2 separate regions of the Homo sapiens genome follow, and region 1 is linked to region 2. Evidence: fine-mapped expression QTL. A gene starts in region 2. The other region holds a variant in brackets. All regions are shown on one strand. Distances are between the middles of the regions.

Region 1 (4,407 bases), 130 kb before region 2:
ATGACTGTAATCCCAGCACTTTGAGAGGCTGAGATGGGAGGATCACTTGAGGCCAGGAGTTTGAGACCAGCCTGGGCAACATAGCCAGACCATGTCTCTATTAAACAAACAAACAAAAAAAAAAAACAAAGGAAAGAAAATTAGGTGGAAGAAGAGAAGTAAAAGACAAGACAACTGAAGAACAGAAGAGAGAAAGGAGCTGAAATTTTGAATGTGAGTACAAGTGCCTCCGTTTCTTCATCTATCACTATGAAAATGTCAGGACATTCGTTGTTAGTAATGACTACTTGGAAAAAGAGTTCTTTGGGATGAATACGGCTATGTGCAACTTAGCTCGAATTACATTCTGCAATCTGTGAGACCAGTGAGACATTGTCCAGTTGAAAAGTCTCTAGGCTTAAATCAAGCTGTAGAGGGTCTATGTAGTCCAAGCTTTCGTTAAATGACTGTGCAATCTGGATCACATTATATGTCCTAAGTGTGTTCCAGTATCCCTATTTGTTGAAAAAAGGAGATGTGAGCTACCCGTCTCACACGCCTAATGTGAAAGTGTAAGAGACATTGAGTACATGAGACATTTCAGTACAAGTGTTCTGAAAAATTCAAAACCAATGCAAAATTCAGACCTCAGAACCAAATAAAGTTCATTTTTCCCCCACTAAACCATTAATGAATGACTTCAGTTAATAAAAGGGTGTGACTTGCCAAGGAATGGATTAGTATTCATTATAAAAATTACATTATAATTAATGCACTCATTAATGATCTACCAATCAATATCAATTGAAGGTCTATTATTTTAAGGAGGATGGGCAATTAGCAGTTTGACACCATGAGAAAGAGATAACCAGCTGACTGATGGGTCTCCATCAAGTTTAATTTTAATTTGTTTTAAAAGGATCTTCTTTAGGAGTGAGTTTAGATGCACATCACTCTTTCTTCTTTCAGAAAATGAATATATATGTTGTTTAAAAAGCATATCAGAATGACAAAGAATACAGTCTGGCATATGTAGCAAGAAATGAGCACATCTAAATGGGCTGGATGGTATGGTGTAAGTTCTATTCTCTCGCACAGTAATATAACTGGATTGCTCTTTAAAGTAAGTGAATTTGTATGTCCGCTTTCTCTTAATGGAATCAGTTTTGATATACTCTTTGTTCATGCTGTTACTGGCTTCAGTCTAAGGTTTCTTTGTATTAACTTTTTAAAGTTACATTACAAAGAGGTTTTAAGATTTCCCAATAGGCTTTTATTTAACTGAAGCTTTTGATCTCAAACCTGCTGGGGCCTAGTGAAATCCTTACCAATTCTCCAGTAACTCCTCACTATTGGAATTTGAAAAGACCCACCTGAAGGATTTAACTCCCTGTATGGCTTCAGCCACCCTTCAGATCGTGCTATTCAAGCAGACAGCGAGGGGTTCTAGTGTACCCTTTGTGATCGCTAAGCAGCCTAAGGTGTCCTTTGCAGAAGTTGTACTCCTGAGGAAATAAAAATCAGGAGGACACAGACCTATATACCTTGTTTCCTGCTATCTTCAGTTAAAGGGGGATAGCAGGGGTCTGCTTAACATCCTTTGCTACCTAAATACCTTTTGGACATGGGAACTCTATAAAAGAACTTTCATTGCATCCATTACCCTACTGCAGTGCATAACAAATTAGATTTAAAAGGCTACTTTTTTTCCCTTACAGCAATTTCCATCATTTTCTTTAAAATTTCAATTTAGTGTCTAGTGACAGAATATTCTATAATGTACTTTAAAACTCTATAATGTCAATTATGCTAACTGAATATTATTTCCAAAGAATTAGGCTTATGTTATTACAGAAAAATCTTAGTTTAAAAGATCAAGTAAAGAGAGAAGTAGAGAATTGATTCATGCTCAAAAGGTGTTAAATATAAAACTAGATAAAACAAATACTGTTTCTGGAAATCTTTTTAAAAATGCAAATACGCATTAATTTTCTATTTAACCCTCAACTCCCAGTTTTAGAACAATTTTGTATTTTAAGTTGAAAAACGTTAATGCCAAATATTAACCTATTTTTAGAAAGGGTAAAATAATTCTAAGAAAATTCCCAATTATAGTATTTAGATATCTTTATTTCATTTGAAAACTCCATCGTGCAGAGATTTTAGAACATGTAAACAACAGTAAGCATGAAAAGCAAATAAAACTTCATAAAGAACACAATATTTGCTGCTGTGTGTGGGGAGAACAGATGTAGCTATGCACCACTTCTCCTGTGTAAACATTTATCTTT[G/A]CCTTTCTATTAACCTGATGTAAAGCCTCTTCATTATTAAAAAATTATTTAAATTCTATGTTGATAAATAGAAATCAACTTATTCCTATGTTACTTCTTTGTATCGGATGTTACTATCTGGGACAAAGCCTCAAGTTAGCTTTACATCAAAGAACCAGAAAGAAATGTGTTTCCAGAAGTTGTAAAATGTTTGCCATTTAGTTCCACTGTGATTCGAGGACATATTCTCTCACACTGTACATGCGCCACATATTACTAGACCTCAGAGGTTCATCCATCTCAGGGTGGTTTCACCCCTTTGGGCTCTCGTGTAACTACAGAAAACCAGTCTTGAACAATCTCAATTCTGAACATGTGGTAGAGTTGTCAGAGAATGTTTTCAGTCTGGGTTTGAGGACTAACGTTACCATACCTGTAGAACATGACATAATTGTTTCATATCTTGATTTACTAATTTCCATAAACATTTGTTACACATCTCATTTGTAGATCTTTATGAGTAGCTGCCTAGTGGAATGTTATTTTCTGCATTTAATAATAACTGATTATATGAAGATAAGGTGATATGAATTCTTTCTCTGGAGAAATAGGGCTCAAAGACTTGCAGAACTGTGAGAATGGGGGAAATTATGAAAAAAATTTGGATTTTTATGGATAACATAATACAAATGTTACTTAAGATATGTTGTGTTCCAGTAATACTCTGCTCCTTTGTAAAAACAAACAAAGAAACAAACAAAAACTATGCATTTTTAATGTGTGGGCAAAAGGTTTAACAAAGTATTTCTCATAATCCAAAATTTACCCTCATCACTCTTATTCATAGTATAAATAGTTACAATTTTGGAGATAGTCTTGCAATATTTATCATTTTAAAAATATAGATCACCTTTGATTAAAAACATGACACTTTCAAAAATTTAGCCTCTAGGGATACTCACAAAATTGGTATAGCTGTACTTAGAAGAATGTTCATTAGAGCATTATGTGTGAGAATAAAAAATCATGGTCAATCTAAATGTCCATCAATGTGAGATTGTTAATAAGATATCAGATATCCTTGGTAACAGTACTATTGTGGTCTCATGCCTACGAAATGTCAAGAAGCAACTAGTTAATGGACACGGCAACCACTTTGAGTAGATGTTATTAATTTGACATTTATGGGTTTAGAAAGCAAAGCACAGATAAATTAAGTAACTTGTCAAAGTCACAGAATTACTAATGCTGGGGCTAGGATTCAAATGCAGCTAAGCCATTTGGTCCCAAAGCCCACGATCTTATCCCTTCTACTATGATGCCCATAGAGATTCCAAGAATGAGGCAGTTTTGACGGCTTCAAATGGAAAAGATGTCCAAGAATTATTAGACATAAAAAAAATGAAGTCACAAACAGAAGGTATAGTATGGTGTCATTTTGGTAAAAGTTATATACATATTAGAACACTTGGAGAGGAAATCTGAAGAATTATTCACCAGGTTGTTTATATGAGAGTTTCTGTGGGTGGGAGTCTCCAATTCTGTTTTATGTATCTGTAATATTTAGATATGTTATAAAAGTATATGATAACAATAGTTTTTTAAAATATCAAAATATAATTGGAAAATTAATAACAGCAGTGAATTATTTTATCAACATATGTAGTATTATTTTCAGAATCTCAAGTGCTGGCAGTCAGTTTGGCCTTTTTTTTTTTTAACAAAGCAGAAACAAATTGTATCACATAGAATGTTCATAATATGGACATTAATTATCACAGTTGGTGTTTGAGGGAGGCTGGTGTTCTATGATAAAGAAAGCTACAACACTGAGAGTTTTTTCCTATATAAGCAAATTTTGCAAGTGATTTGTCTTTTAACTATTGAATAAAAGTACTTTTTATCAATAGAGTTAAACTTATTTTTATTTCACATTCCCTGTATTAGAACATGAATATTTATTCTTTTAAAGCTTTTTATTTTTTGTGGAAAGAGGATTCTCTCAACCTTTCTAATATATAAAAACACTTACTCACATTTGCACTTATAAACTGCTTACATGGGCAAACATTGCATTCCAGGTTCCTAGGGAGGGAAATTCTGCATTTTATTCTGAAGTTACAAAAGATAATTAATACACTACTGGGCTAAGCACTAG
Region 2 (4,407 bases):
CAATTTAGACAAAAGATAGCAGTATTGATAGGCTGGGAAATGGATCTAGAACAGTAATTCCTAGTTACAGACCTCTTTGAGAATATGATGAAAACTCCAGACTTGGACTCCAGAAAAATGTGCCAAAAATCTAGCATGAAGGTTTTGAGATTTCCTGCATCTGTTGAAGTCCAGGGGTCCAGGGACCCACGAAACCTATGTTAAAATTCCTGTACTGAATGTCAGGGTATGGAGTGGGAATAAAGAGACACAGAGAAACAGAGAAGGAGGCACCAAGATAGAAAAAGATAAAAGAGCCACGGAAGAGAGTAGACTCGGAAGTAGAGAGAGACTGAGAGGCTGAAAGTAGATGTAACTGCAGTTCTCTTAGCCGAACATAATCTCGCAATGCTATACATAATTAGGTTCTAATAAACACTTTCTTATGTCCAGAATCTTGAGTTATTCTGTCAAATAAAAATCTCCCATATGAAAGACATGATATATCTTTCACCTGAGGATTTTTGACAGTGTTGAAAAAACATACAGGAACAAGCATTTCATTTTAAAGGCAAGCATGAAGATTTTTAAAAGAACAGTGTAAGTTAAAGGGTCAGTTGGCTTGTAAATGCAAAAGCTTTTGTGTTTACTGAAGGCCATTGGTAGAAAAATTGTAAAAATAATACTGATTGGGAAGCATCAGTCATACTTTTTTTCAAAGAGTTTTTAATATATAGTATTGTATTTTATTTTCACAACAACCCTTTTTGTTAGGTAGGGCAAAAACTGCCATATGTGTTTTGAACATGAAGAAATTGAGACATGTGTATGGAGACTTATCTGGAATGATGAATACTCCAGGAAAAAGTGAATTCTGGAAACCAGATTTCCCAGCTCTGATTCTCAGGTGAATCCATATATCCCTGTTAGATATTAACACCCACATAGCCAGTGTATATTACAAATATAGTGTCTTCTTGTTTCTTAAAATGAAATAAAATTGACGAATTGGAACATGAATTAAAAATAGTGTTCTTGAAATGGGACAAAATAACAGGATCGTAGAACTTTAGAATGTAGGAGACCCTAGACATGAATAATCTCACCTACTTGTTAAGGTCCTTGTTGAGGACAAGGACTTGTCCCAGAGGGCTTGAGATTTGAACAAGACCTGGTGAGTGGAGACATATGGGAGAGACACTAACAGCAGAATGAAATAAGGACTTGCTCTCAACTCTGCTTTTTTTCCCACTCCCACCCAGGGGAAGAAGCAGGATTTAAAAGCATCTATTCTATGTTTTATATAACTTAGATGGAATGTCTTGATAATAATTTTGAAAAATCAGGTGTGAATCAAATCCAGTTCTCTTCTCAGACTATACCTGGGAACTTTAAAATTCCAGTGTTTTCTCAGAAGTTGTCTGTATAGGATAATGTAAAATTCTTTACATTCTGTTGGCCTGGGAAATTTTACATGGCTAAGAAAATATAGTAGAATAATTGCTCTGCTTCTCAGACTATAGTAGAGATTCCTAGGTTAGCATAGGTAATTCATGTTTCAAGGATGAATATGGTCATATATATCCATACATGCCCATATTCAATTATTCATGATTGTGGTATATATATATATACACACACACACATGCATACACACACATACATATGATATATAGATATATAATTGTGAGCATTTATAAAAGCATTAGGTCTGCAGGATATTTAAACACTCTTCATTTGTAACTTGCATTTTAGGGGGAATTATTTAGCTATGCGAGATATCACCATATTCAGTTTTTTTAATATAATAAACATGTCTAGTCAAAGAAGGCATTAATGAAGCAATTCCCCAAATAAAACAGCCCATGATATCTGAGTTGCAGCAGAGAGAGAGTGTGGTCTTTGTAGTTTAATCAAGATCACAAGACTTGTTTTGAGCGTCTGTCATCTTTAATTTTACGGCACTTCATTTCAGAGTAGGACTGCCAGGGTCACATGCAATTAAAACACAGGCAAGACTTGTCTTGTGAAATCTTAACATAAAAAGTAATGTGTTACTCCATTTTAACTTTTCTACTGAACTCCGTGAACTCACTAATTACTTTTCCCCCCTCTTGTCACCTTTTTGATATGACATGTATTTTATAGAGGAGATAGAAATTTGGATTTTTTTAATATCATGCATATGATTGAGGATAACAAAATTAAACCAGAGAAAAAAGGAATGCGTTTTTCAGAAATACATTTTTTAGTAATATCTGAGTACTCCAGCTTCAATTACAAAGAACCTCATAGATCAAATTCTAGGAAATAACTGTTAATCTGCTTAACTAGGGCAGGTAGAAGTGTAATAACGGACCAGAGATTTTACAGAGGCCAGGATCGTGAACCGGAGTTTATTCTCTGGGGTGCGGGCAAAAGCGCTTTTATGTGATTGGCTGAGAAAAGCATTAAAAGCCAGCGCCTACGTGGAGATTTGGAGCACAAGGAGGGTTGTTGCATCATAGTGATCAGTAAATTGCATAGACCCTTATTAACCTTATTGATAAGGAGCTTAGGGAAGACCCAGGCAGGGCGCAATATATTCTTCTTTTTGTTCTCCTGTCTGTCTCCGTTTGCAATCCCAGCCGCTTTGTATGGAGAGCTTTTACGCAGCACCTGAAAATTCAATGTGAGTAGCTGCGCCTTTAAGTTAGAGCCAGGGAATGGAGCGGGAGCCAGCCCATGCACAGGGGGTTCAGGGCCTATTTAACTGGTGCTGGGGACACCTGGAGAATGTTTGAAAATTTTGTGCTTAAAGAATCTTTTATATTACTCCTCTTTCAATGCAGCTGGGGTCTGTAGGGATCAGGGGATTATTTTTGATACCTGTCGAAAAGAGTTATGTCTACACTGATTTTCCATCCCTCACTACTAATTAACCTTATTGTATACAGGAAACAGTGTATTTAATACCTGCATTCTTTCTGTAATGCCAAGTAAAATGAAATCCAGTGTGAAATCTAGTTAGCGTTTGCCTTTTTGAAGTCATTTTTAAGTTTCCAGTTTTAGTGACTGTGACCTCAGAACTGATAGCTAGAAAAATAGTGAGCTCAAACCAATTTTGGTTTCAATTGTATTCCTCACTCCTTCCAACTTTAAAAGCTGCCTTTCACCTGGTCTGGTGAGGAGAATGGAGGAATGGAACATCCCGAGCTGGACCACGTTTCTCTGGAGTCTTCCATGTTGGCCTCTGCCTGTGGTTGTGAGGTTTCCCTTTAGGCCGGCCCCATAGGCCGGCCCCTACTCCATTAACCTGGTTTCTCTCCTTGGCAGTTGAACACCTGTGTCCCCTTCTTTTCAATCTGGGAGGCTGAAATTTGACAGACACATCATGGCAAAGTTGTGCAGCAGCGATACAAGTAGATGCTGAAGAAAAGGGAGGAATCTGAGCGCAGGATAAAATGCTCAAGAAAATCCCATTGGTGGAATGTTTGTGAGAGAAAAAAAAGGTAGGGTCTAGCAAGAAAGAGCAGAAATTAAACTGTGTAAAATGTCACCAAATGATGTGGAAAAATCCACATGTCTTCAAGTATGCTGCACAATATGGACTTAGAACACATTTTGCGAGTGATGTGAGAATGGTTAGCACAATGGTTACATTCCTGCTCTTAAAATTCCAGTGTGTGTGTGCATGTGTGTGTGTGTGTGCATGTGTGTCAAGTAAACTTGTTAGCGAAAATAGTGCCAGAGGAAAGTGAGGATTTTCAGGCCACTGCCTTGTATTTTCCAGATTCCTTGGCTTTTGAGATTTTCATATGTTGGTCAGAATGCCTATGCCTTATAACATTTGTCTGACATGTAAACCACACATTGATAAGTGGAGAGAAGGTTAGTGGAAGATGCTGCTGGGTGTCACAGATGCCTAAGACCCCCTCCTCCTCCCAGCTGACTTGAACCGGGACATCAAAATTTGCTGTCAGACTTGCATGGGTTAGATTGGTGAATCTTACCATCTCTCCACTGCTTCTGTGATTTAGTAAGCATTTCTTAGGGACTTGCACTTCAAGAGAGGTAGCTGAAGGAATGTCTGTTTGATGGCCCTTGTTTAGGTGGGACTAAGAGTCAACACAAATACCACTGATTTGGCTGCACATAAGACGCTACATTTAACTTGATAGGAAACCTGACGGTGGATCATATTTGTATTTAATGTTGCTAGTGTTCTGGGTTTTTGTCTTGGTTCACTGATCCATCAAGTGTGCACAGAGCCCCAAGCACGGGCATGGTGTTGCCACTCTCACTTACTGCTTTCTTAGCGCTCTCCTTATTGAATGGGGAGTGTTGTATAGAATCCTACTGATGGCTTAAGAGTTTTGTGGACCCTGCATACTTTGCTTCAAGCATAAAATAGCAAAAATCAGTTGTATAAGTCTATAAGGAGTGTGT

Direction of the effects. Alleles are on the strand shown, and positions count from the first base shown. SD is a standard deviation of normalised expression in the study named.
For the expression in substantia nigra of the gene that starts at base 2,555 in region 2, allele A in region 1 goes with a lower level than allele G (large effect, 0.75 SD a copy in GTEx).

Evidence for each region. PIP is the estimated chance that this variant, and not a neighbour inherited with it, causes the effect. A credible set is the group of variants that fine-mapping cannot tell apart.
Region 1: its variant is the best candidate, but not a certain one, in a credible set for the expression of ARHGAP15-AS1 in substantia nigra (GTEx, PIP 0.74).

The regions. Positions count from the first base shown.
Region 1 is chr2:143,903,963-143,908,369 of GRCh38, reverse strand. No RefSeq gene overlaps it. Among named protein-coding and RNA genes, the nearest start is that of QTMAN-AS1, 31 kb to the left of the region's middle. RefSeq lists an enhancer at 1,154-1,712. The variant G/A (reference allele first, on the strand shown) is at 2,271.
Region 2 is chr2:143,774,246-143,778,652 of GRCh38, reverse strand. ARHGAP15-AS1 (ARHGAP15 antisense RNA 1) reads left to right here and starts at 2,555. Exons shown (of 8, transcript XR_007087251.1): 1 at 2,555-2,650; 2 at 3,295-3,470.